Regions from separate parts of the Homo sapiens genome. Here region 1 is linked to region 2. Evidence: fine-mapped expression QTL. A gene starts in region 2. The other region holds a variant in brackets. All regions are shown on one strand. Distances are from middle to middle.

What was found. PIP is the estimated chance that this variant, and not a neighbour inherited with it, causes the effect.
Region 1: its variant is fine-mapped to the expression of SLC9A1 in whole blood (INTERVAL, PIP 0.92).

Annotation. Positions count from the first base shown.
Region 1 is chr1:27,115,493-27,120,858 of GRCh38, reverse strand. All of the region lies in intron 1 of SLC9A1 (solute carrier family 9 member A1), which reads left to right. Among named protein-coding and RNA genes, the nearest start is that of SLC9A1, 37 kb to the left of the region's middle. RefSeq lists enhancers at 1,055-1,764, 1,765-2,475, 3,186-3,897. The variant C/G (reference allele first, on the strand shown) is at 2,332.
Region 2 is chr1:27,152,709-27,158,074 of GRCh38, reverse strand. It overlaps SLC9A1 (solute carrier family 9 member A1), which reads left to right and starts at 2,950. Exons shown (of 12, transcript NM_003047.5): 1 at 2,950-4,092. The coding sequence starts at 3,741. LOC102723760 (a long non-coding RNA gene) reads right to left here and starts at 514. Exons shown (of 3, transcript XR_426674.4): 1 at 449-514. RefSeq lists an enhancer at 1,556-2,055 and a silencer at 3,001-3,230.

The sequences.
Region 1 (5,366 bases), 37 kb after region 2:
TCAGGATGTGAGATGAAATGAGAGGGGGTGTGTATAAGCCCCCTGCACAGAGCCTTGCATCAGATTCTCCAAGTGTCCAGTGTTTGTCTCCTGGGTGCTGGAGAGTTTATCTTTTTTTTTTGAAATGGAATTTTGCTCTATTGCCCAGGCTGGAGTGCCATGGTGTGATCTCGGCTCACTGCAACCTCTGCCTAACAGGTTCAAGTGATTCTCCTGCCTCAGCCTCCTGAGTAGCTGTGATTAGAGGCGCCTGCCACCACACCTGGCTAATTTTTGTATTTTTCGTAGAGACGAGGTTTCGCCATGTTGGTCACTGTGGTCTAGAACTCCTGACCTCAGGTGATCCACCCGCCTCGGCCTCCCAAAGTGATGGGATTACAGACGTGAGCTGCCACCCCCAGCTGGCTGCTACATTTTAAAAAAAGTATTATTTGGCCAGGTGCGGTGGCTCACGCCTGTAATCTCAGCACTTTGGGAGGCTAAGGTGGGTGGATCACCTGAGGTCAGGAGTTTGAGACCAGCCTGGCCAACATGGCGAAACCCCTCCTCTATTAAAAATACAAAAATTAGCCAGGCGCCATGGTGGGTGCCTGTAATCCCAGCCCCTGGAGAGGTTAAGGCAGGAGAATCACTTGAACCCGGGAGGCAGACGCTGTAGTGAGCCGAAATCGCGCCACTGTACAACAAGAGTGAGACTCCGCCCCCCCAAAACAAAACAAAACAAAACAAAACAAAAAAAACCTCCCATCCCCACAGCAGAAACTCAATGAATAATACTTTTTTTTTTTGAGGTGGAGTCTTGCTCTGTCACCAGGCTGGAGTGCAGTGGTGCAATCTTGGCTCACTGCAACCTTCCCCTCCTGGCTGAGTTAACTTAGGAGAGCTTCCTGGAGAGGGCAGCCTTTGAAGATAGGAAGGATTTCATGAAGTCTTTACTAGGCCACTAGAGTAGAAGCAGTGGGAGACTTCCTGGAGAAGAGCTCATGGAAAGAAAAACCTACCGCTGGCCCTTTGGGAACTGCTTTGGGCCTCTTTAGTCCTAGGCTCACACGCCCCTTAGAAACAAAGTAAGAATAAAGCCAGGGATAATACAGTGAGTGGCCAAGAACACAGACTCTGGAGCCAGACTACCTGGGTTTGAATCCCAGTTACCAGCCATGTGACTTTGATCAAGTTGCTTAACCTTTGTGTGCTTCAGTTTCCTCATCTGTAAAATAAGGGGATGGTAATTGTGACTTCCCAGAACTATGGTGGAGAGCAAATGGGTTAAGAGTGTGCCGCTGTAAACTGTAGAGTGCTGGGCTTTCATTGGGAAGTATTACCTTTCATTGCTGCAGTTGAGACTGGTTGCTGGGGCAGTTGAAGAGGGAGTTAAAGAAATGGAATCATTGTGCAACTAGGAATCCCTTGGGACCTGGCCGAGTTGCAGCCCCAGAGCAGTCCTCAGGCCTGGAAGTAGGGCGACAGAGCCCTCAGTGTGCCCCTGGGTCCCTGGTGACCTGGCACTATGGGCCAAAGAGACCCCTCTTCCCAGCACTCCCCTCTGACTTCCCAGGCCAGAGGAGGGTTGCGGGAAGGGGGATCAGGCATGTCTGGTCACCCTGGCAACCCAGGGTGATGTCGGACAGCCTTGCCTGCTCCACTGAGCCAGTCTCAACAGATGGGGACCGTCCGAGGAGATATAAATAAAACATTCTTGTGGTGCAGAGCAGCCGCAGGGGGCTGGGAGCCTCCATCAATTGGAAGTTTGGTGAGGTGTCTGCTCAGCAAGAGTGTGTGTGTGTGTGTGTGTGTGTGTGTGTGTGTGTGTGTGTGTTCGTTCCAGCTACCACCTACACTAGATAGAATGAAAAACACTTCTCCCATCCCCCAGCCTCTTCTAAAAGGAGCGCCAACTCTGAACTGTGTCAGAGGGTTTGGCCTGTGGCTGTGCTTGGAGATGTTGAATTCCACACTTTCGTGCCTCCTTGTTCTGGGAGGACTGGACGTCCTCGAAGAAGGCTGTGTGGCTTGGAGTGTCACAGACTGCTGGGGTAGAACTGGACATGTGATCATTGACAGGTCACTGGCTGTCTCTGTCTCCATTTCCCTGACTATATAATGGAGAATTTAGATGCTCTCCAAGATCCATTCCAGCTCTTACGACTCTGGTTCTTACTCTAACTGCCTCTTCCCATCCCTGATTTCACCCTGGTGACATCACTGCTGCTGCATGTTTGGGCCCTGAAAGTTTTGCCTCATCTCTTGGCATCCTGGGATCTTGCCTCCATGCAGGGCTTTTGTCAGGGTACCAGGGGCCGCAGCCATCCTTCTGTGCCCCTTTCACCACAC[C/G]GGGTGTCAGCAAGCATCCTGCTCTTTGTGGGGACTCTGCAGGGATGCAGAGTGAGCGCAGTTGGTGGAGTCAGGGCGTTAGGAGAGGGACAAGCCAGCGCAGGTCCAGGGGCTGCTTCCCACTTCCCTGAGCCGTTGCTCCTGAAGGAGCCTCCTCTTGATGACAGAATCCCTTCCTCCCCCAGCCCTAGAAGTGCTTTCCAATAATGTGCCACCTACCCACAGGCAGGGAGCCAAAAGTGGATCTCAGACCTTTCTCCTCAGCCTGGCCCGGCCCGGCCCTCCCCTCAGGCCCAGAGAGCCCATCAGGGCCTAGAGCTCCTTCAGCTCACTGAGCGCCAGAGACAAAACAGGAAAGCCAGGGAAACCAGCTCCAGGAACATGGCTCCAGCCCCAGGTACTCTGGAGCTGGCTGAAGGAGAAGGAGGTCGCTGTGCTGTAGTCAGGAGGCCCGGGACCCAGTCCTGGTTGGCCTGGCTGAGTGCATGCAGCCTCCTCTCAGAGCTCGTTTTTCTTGTGTTCAATAGGAATGCCAGCTCTCTGTTCACCTGGTCATAGAAGCTCCAAGGGCTGGAATAGCATGGCCCTCCCCATCAGCTGCTCACGGAGGTTCAGAGTCTGAGTCACCTCAATGTTCCCAGTGTCCCATATGGCCTGGCTCAGAGAAAATACCGAGCTTTGACTAAAGAATTAATTAGCGCTCTCTGCTACCGGTTTGAGACACCTAAGCTAGAATAGAGGTCCTCCCTTAGACACTAGGGGAGTGGCATAACCTTGCTGAGCCTCAGCTTTGTCTTCTGCAAAATGGAGGCAATACCTATCCCAAGGGCTGTGGTGAGGACTGAATGAGATGGTGCGTGCCAGGCTCCCAGCACAGTTCTGGCTCATGGGACGCCCTCAGACCTGAGGAGCCGTCTTCATGTTGCTGTTCTTGGCTTGTTTCACATGCCTGCCCCCTCCCCAGGCAGGAGCTGTGGCCAACTCTTCTCTGGGTCTCCCAGGCACTGTCTGGCGATTTATGGGGCCAGGAAAGCTCTGTGGATTGGGTTGATGGCACAGAGTGAGGGTAGGAGGCATTTTTAGAGCCCGACCCCTTAGGTGGAGGTGGAAGCCATCATCTGCCTACCCTGGACTATCTCTTTAGACTCTGCCTTCTCTTAAGGCAGCTCTTGGTGCTAACGCCAGGACAGGGGCAGGGAGGCTGTGGAGGGGGGTCAGCATGCAGCTGGCTGGAGCTGGACTTCCGGCCTTGGGAAGGTGCTTTCTGGCCCCTGCCTGTAGGAGCTCTGCTCCCCTAAATCTTCATCCTGCTTATCTCCGCTGCGCTGTGCCTGTCTCCCCTCCAGCACACTGCAGGTCTTTGGGGTCTGATGCCATTGTCTTGTCTCAGCTGCTTCTGCCTGGGTTGTCTGACTGATCTCGGTGGGTGCCAGGAAGAGAGAGAGGAACCTGGGAGATGACTGTGGATTGAAGGTTATGAGAGAGGGAAGCACCAGAAGATTCCTGCCCTAACCTGAGCAGACAGGTGGTGGTCAGGGAATGCTTCCTGAAGGAGGAGGCAGGCAGAGGATATGGTGTCAGCCACATATGGTGGGGGTAGAGGTAGAGGAATGATTTCTAGAGAGAGGAACTAGACTAGGTGAAGATTGGCAGGCAAAAGAGGATGTGGCTCATATGGGGCAATTGCAAGGAATTTGGCAAGGCTGAAACCTAAGAGTTGACAGTGGGGAGAATGGGACATGAGGCAAGAGCAGATGACAGAGGCAGTGCTGAAAATGTGGGCTTTATCCTCTACAGCAAGAGAGACTTGGGTCCAACATGACTAGCCCTTCCCAGTGGACCAGCCAGCTACACACTGGATGTTGACTGGTGGACAGTACAAAGACTGGGGGACTTTTCAGCAAAAGGGGTGATTTTGGAATTATTTTCCCTTTTATTGATGTGGGAAGTAGATGAACAAAAAGTGACTTTTGGTCATGTCTATTTTGAAATCAGGAGAATGCACATGGTGCCTTCGAGGTCCTCTTGGCCTAGGATGGAGACATCTTTTTTTCCCAATGTGTTTTGAGTGTCTTCAGGGTGCTTGGCACTGTGCCAGGATTCTGGGCCTGGATAGTGTTCAGTGTGTGAACTTTTTTTTTTCAAGATGGAGTCTTGCTCTGTTGCCCAGGCTGGAGTGCAGTGGAGTGATCTTGGCTGGAGCTCAGTGGCGTGATCTCGGCTCACTGCAACTTCTACCTCCTGTGTTCAAGCAATTCTCCTGTCTCAGCCTCCCAAGTAGCTGGGAATACAAGCACCCACCACCACGCCTGGCCAATTTTTATATTTTTAGTAGAGACAGGGTTTCACCATATTGGTCAGGCTGGTCTTGAATTCCTGACCTCAGGTGATCCACCCACCTCGGCCTCCCAAAGTGCTGGGATTACAGGCGTGAGCTACCGTGCCCAGCCAGCAGTGTGAACTTTGACTTGTCACCGTACTAGCACTGCCCAGATTCCTACCTGAGAGTAGGAAGGGCTTTGGGCATGGAGAGGGAAGTTCCTCCTCTGTCCCAAGGATCTCAAGAGTAAGTAATGAGAGCAGAGGCCTGGCCAGGCATGCAGGTTATCGGAAATCTTGGGTGATGTCCCAGCCCTGTGTATTTTCAAGTCAGCTGATATTTGTTGAGCACTTCTTGTGTCCTAGCCCTGGGTGTATAATGATAAGCAGTTATGGGATCTGCCTGCACAGAGCTTGCAAGATAGGGAAGGGGAGGAGAGAGAGCTTTGCTTTCTTCTTTCTTTTTTTTTTTTGAGGCTGGGCTCAAGTGATCTTCCTGCCTCGGCCCTCCTAACTAGCTGAGACTACAGGTGCATACCATGCCCAGCTATTTTTTTTAAGTGGAGATGAGGTCTCCTATGTTGTACAAGCTGGTGTCAAATTATTGGCCTCAAGTGTTCCTCCCACCTCAGCCTCCTAAAATGCTGGGATACAGGCATGAGCCACCATGCCAGGCCAGAGAGAGCTTTCCTCTTGAGCAAAGGGACAAACCCTCT
Region 2 (5,366 bases):
GCTGGTCTTGAACTCCTGACCTCAAGTGATCTGCCTGCCTCAGCCTCCCACAGTGCTGGAATTACAGGCGTGAACCACTGTGCCTGGCCTAATTAATTTTTAGAGATGGGTCTCACTATGTTTCCCAGGCTGGAGTGCAGTGGCTATTTCACAAGCACAATCATAGTGCATTACAGCCTCAAATTCCTGGGTTCAAGTGATTCTTCTGCCTCAGCCTCCCAAGTAGCTGGGACTACAGGTGCATGCCACTGCACCTGGATATTATTATTTTATTTTACTTATTTTTTTTAAAGACAGGGTCTCCCTATGTTGCCTAGGTTGGTCTTAAACTCCTGGCCTCAACTGATACTCCCATCTCAGGCTCCTGAGTTGCGGGGATTACAGGCATGAGCCACTGCTGCTAGCTTATTATTATTTTAATATATTTTTCCATGGAAGGATAGCATACCTAGAAAAAGGTGCACACATCTTGAGTCTTCAGTGAGTTATCACGAAACAACTACGTCGCTGTAACCTTTGTAGCTATCACCCAGTAAAGAAATAGAACATTACCAGCATTCTAGAAGCCCTCATTATGTCCACTTTATGCCCCCTCCCAATTCCTACCACCTCCTTCCTCCCTCTGGCTTATCTCTGTGTTGCCAGAGCCCAGCACAAAGCCCTGTCAAGAGGCCCAGTAAACATTTGTTAAACTAAATTGAATCTCAAGTACTTGTGATGTGACCTTGAGCTAGACACTTTGACTGTTTTGGCCTTAATGTACTCTTCTGCAAAACAGGGACAGCATTTCAGTGATTTCTATACCTCCCAACCCTAGTTGTATATCAGAGCCTTTGAAAAAAATACTTTGGCACTACCCTGAAGTAATTGAATCTAAATCTCTGACGGTGGGTCCCCGAAAATGATATTTTACAAAAGATGATGATGATGATGATTACTATGATTGACAGGGTCTCCCTTTGTTGCCCAGGCTAGAGTGCTGTGGTGGATCATAGTTCACTGTAGTCTCAAACTCCTAGGTTCAAATGATACTCCTGCCTCAGCCTCCCAAGCAGCTAGGACTACCAAGCACAGCTAATTTTATCAGACAATGGTATTTATTTTTATTTATTTATTTTTTTTTGAGACAGAGTCTCGCTCTGTTGCCCAGGCTGGAGTACAGTGGTGCAATCTTGACTTACTGCAACCTCCGCCTCCTGGGTTCAAGTGATTCTCTTGCCTCAGCCTCCTGACTAGCTGGGATTACAGGCATGTGCCACCACGCCCGGCTAATTTTTTTTTTTTTTTTTTTTTTTTGAGACGGAGTCTCGTTCTGTCGCCCAGGCGGGAGTGCTGTGGCGCGATCTCCGCTCACTGCAAGCTCCGCCTTCCGGGTTCACGCCATTCTCCTGCCTCAGCCTCCCGAGTAGCTGGGACTACAGGCGCCCGCCACTGCGCCCGGCTAATTTTTTGTATTTTTAGTAGAGACCGGGTTTCACCGTGGTCTCGATCTCCTGACCTCGTGATCCGCCCGCCTCGGCCTCCCAAAGTGCTGGGATTACAGGCGTCAGCCACTACGCCCGGCCTAGACAATGGTATTTTAAAAAAGCTTTCCAGTGATTCCATTGTACAGCCATGATCCCTTGAACCTCACCAATTTCAACCAAACTATAGGTTCAAATTTAAGTTCCACTACTTAAAGCATGCCACTGTTGTGGGTTGAATTGTGTCCCGGCAAAAGAAGTTGAAGTCCTAATGCCCAGTGCCTATGAAGATGGACTAATTAGGATGCAGTCTTTGAAGATGTTCAGGTTAAGATGAGGTAATTACGTTGGATTTCTAATCCAATGACTGGTGTCCTTATAAAAAGGGGAAATCTGGCTGGGGGTTGTGGCTTACCCCTGTAATCCCAGCACTTTGGGAGGCCGAGGCGGGTGGATCACCTGAGGTCAGGAGTTCGAGACCAGCCTGACCAACATGGTGAAACCCCATCTCTACTAAAAATACAAAAATTAGCTGGACGTGGTGGTGGGTGCCAGTAATCCCAGCTACTCTGGAGGCTGAGGCAGGAGAATCGCTTGAATCCAGGAGGCAGAGGTTGCATTGAGCTGAGATGGCGCCACCGCACTCCAGCCTGGGCAACAAGAGCCAGACTCTATCTCAAAAAAAATAAAAATAAAAATAAAGTGTGGGCGGGGAATCTGGACGCAGAGACAGAGACACCAGGAGAACTCCATGGAATACCAGATAGTCCTAACAAACCACTGGAAGGTAGGAGAAAGGCATGGGACAGATTCTCCCTCATAGCTCTCAGCTGAAACCAACCCTGCCAACACCTAGATCCGACCTCCAGCCTCCAGAACTGTGAGACAATCAATTTCTGTTGTTGCAGCCACCCAGTTTGGGGTGATACTTTGTTACGGCAGCCCTAGTAAGCAATACAACTACTTGCATAGTAGCCAGGGGACTCTCTTCACCTGTTTCCTCATCTGTAAAAGTGGAATTGTAATAATGTGCCAGGGTGCATTCCAAATAGTTTACACGGATTGTCTCAGTCATTACATCATCCCTCTGACATAGTCACTATTACTGTCTCTACTTAACAGATGAGAAAGTTGTGAAACAGGTTAAGTAACTTGCTCAAGGTCACACGGTAACTAAATACATAAACTAATAATACATTCTTCACAGGATTATTCGAAAGCCCTTATGAGACTGCAGATGTGGACGTGAAATCGTTTTGTAAGTAGTCGGCATTTTACTCGCGTTAGTGAGGTTCTCTGTATATTCAGGACTTTTTTTTTTTTTTTTTTTTGTCATCTCTGACTCTCCTTCCTCTTCCTACGCGATACTTCTTTCCCTCGGCGACAGGGGCCGCTGCGCTGGGCGGGTGCCGACGGTCTCTCTAGCCCGCCGCACCGGCTGCTCGCTGGTGCCTATAAGTGACAGCGCCGGGCTCAGCTAGGCTTCAGTCTGCTGCCGCCGGGGCCGGGGCTAGGGTTAGTTCTGGAGCTGGACCAGGAGGAGCTGCAGCTGGGCCGGGGCGGAGCGCCGCGTCGCGCCAGGGCCGCGAGGAGGGGCGTGTTGCTGCTGGCCCACCGCGAGCCGCCCCCAGCCCGCGCCGAGGCGCCTTCCCGCCAGGCCGCCTGCCTTCCGCCTCTTTCCATTTCCCCGGAATCTCAGCCCGGCGCGCCTGGACCCCTGCCCCTCTCTGGGTGGAGAAGCTCCCGGCCGCTTCCCGGTTTCACTCCTTCTCAGCCTGGGCTCCCAGCCCCCTCTCTCCTTTTCCTGGACTGGCTCTCACCCCCTTCGGTCCCCTTCCTTTAGCTCAGGCTCCCTACCCCTTCCTTTAGCCCACAGCCCAGAGTCCCAGCTCCTCAGTCACTTTCCTCAGCCAAAGGTCCCAGCCTTCCTTCTTCCTTTCCTTTGCACTATCCCTATCCTGCCCCTTCCTCTATCCCTAGGGCTCAGTTTCCCACATCCGTCCTCCCCCTTCCCAGGCCCGGAGTTCCAGACCTTTTGGTCTCCTTTCGTGGTCGTTCCTGGGTCCTTGCCCCCTTTCCCCACTTTGGAGTTCCAGATTGCAAACCCAGCCTCCCTCCACCCCCAGAAAATTGCTTCCATGGAAATGCCTCTCTAAAACATGAACTTTTCCTAGAGACTACGCCAGTCTCTCTTCCCACTTGCTGACCCTTTGCTACCTATGTGCCCGGTTTTACTCTCATTTGGGTAAGGTCGAGGCTGGCTCTGGAAGCAGCACCATGGTTCTGCGGTCTGGCATCTGTGGCCTCTCTCCACATCGGATCTTCCCTTCCTTACTCGTGGTGGTTGCTTTGGTGGGGCTGCTGCCTGTTCTCAGGAGCCATGGCCTCCAGCTCAGCCCAACTGCCAGCACCATTCGAAGCTCAGAGCCACCACGAGAACGCTCGATTGGGGATGTCACCACCGCTCCACCGGAGGTCACCCCAGAGAGCCGCCCTGTTAATCATTCCGTCACTGATCATGGCATGAAGCCGCGCAAGGCCTTTCCAGTCCTGGGCATCGACTACACACACGTGCGCACCCCCTTCGAGATCTCCCTCTGGATCCTTCTGGCCTGCCTCATGAAGATAGGTAAGTCCCGTTTGCTCCGATGCTGCGGCCGCCACCAGACTGGTGAGCTTCTTGCCTCATCTCGCACCATTTGAGGCTGTCCAGGAGTAAGGATCTGAACTACCCCCATAAAGTAGGCAGTCTCCATCCTGCCACCTTGGTCCTTCTCAGGCTCCAGTTCTGTGGCTTCTGATCTGTGATCTGAGGCTTCCCAAGATTGGAGCCAGCACTGTGCACAGAAGAGAGCAGGATTAGAGAATGGGATGCCTCTGATCCTAGGTCCCTTCAGTAAGGCTTCCACGACTGGCAAGTCTCCTCTGGCTGGGCCAGACCCCCAGGGGAGCCAGGCACCCCGCTGTGTGTGAGACAGAAAGGAGTGTCTTCTGGCGAGTGGCACATTCTGCTCTGTCAACAGCAACCAGTGCAATTTATGACAGGCTTCACTGGAGCGTGTTCCAGGATGGAGTATATTTCTACTTGGCCTGCTTGAGGAGTTTAAGCATAGTGGAGACCTGGGCACAGGAAACTTACAAGTGTGGTGGAACACAGGGGATCCCCATATTCCCACCTTTCCTTCATCTCCAGAATGTTATCTGTCAGCTTTGCTTGTCCAGGCTAGTTAGGAGCCCCTGAGTCAATTTCCGGCCCAGGAATGCCATACTTTATAGAATCTGTGGGACAAGGGGCCCTGGAAATTTCTGAAGTCTGTTTTGGAAGTGGAGGGAGAGTAGAGGAGGTTGAGGCTTGGTCTGACCCCAGCTCACCCCCAGGTCGCTGCCTGGCTGTGTCTCAGGGTGCTGTCTGGCCTGCTGCTCAATCAAGTAGATGAGGTAGATGGGGGAGCCTAGGGATGTTCAGGCCTGAAGAGACTTTGAAACCTTCTTTTGGGGAGAAGGAAACAGACAACTTATTTGCTCTCAGAGTATTGGTCTCCCTGCTAGGCCTGAGCACTCTGTTCTGCTGAGTGATTGGGGGAGCTTACTGGAGCCTACATTGCCCAGAAGTCCCTGAAAGTGGTGTTCAGGGGGACTTTGACAACTGCCTTTGCATTTTCAGCTTGCCCCCAGCTGGCTGTGGAAGGCATGAGGTCCTGGGACTCTGCTGTCCCCTCTGCCTGAGATTTGGGTTTGGGAATTTGGCAGGAAACCTTCCAGCTCTCCCAAGGACATGCAGGAGCTGAGCGGTGCTGCCGGGCTGGTGTGAGGCAGGCTCTGGGACATGCAGCGGGAGGGAAGTGGTGCCTCTAATTTGACAGATCCAGGAGCTGGGTTCCTGGTGCAGGGCTCTTGTGCCAA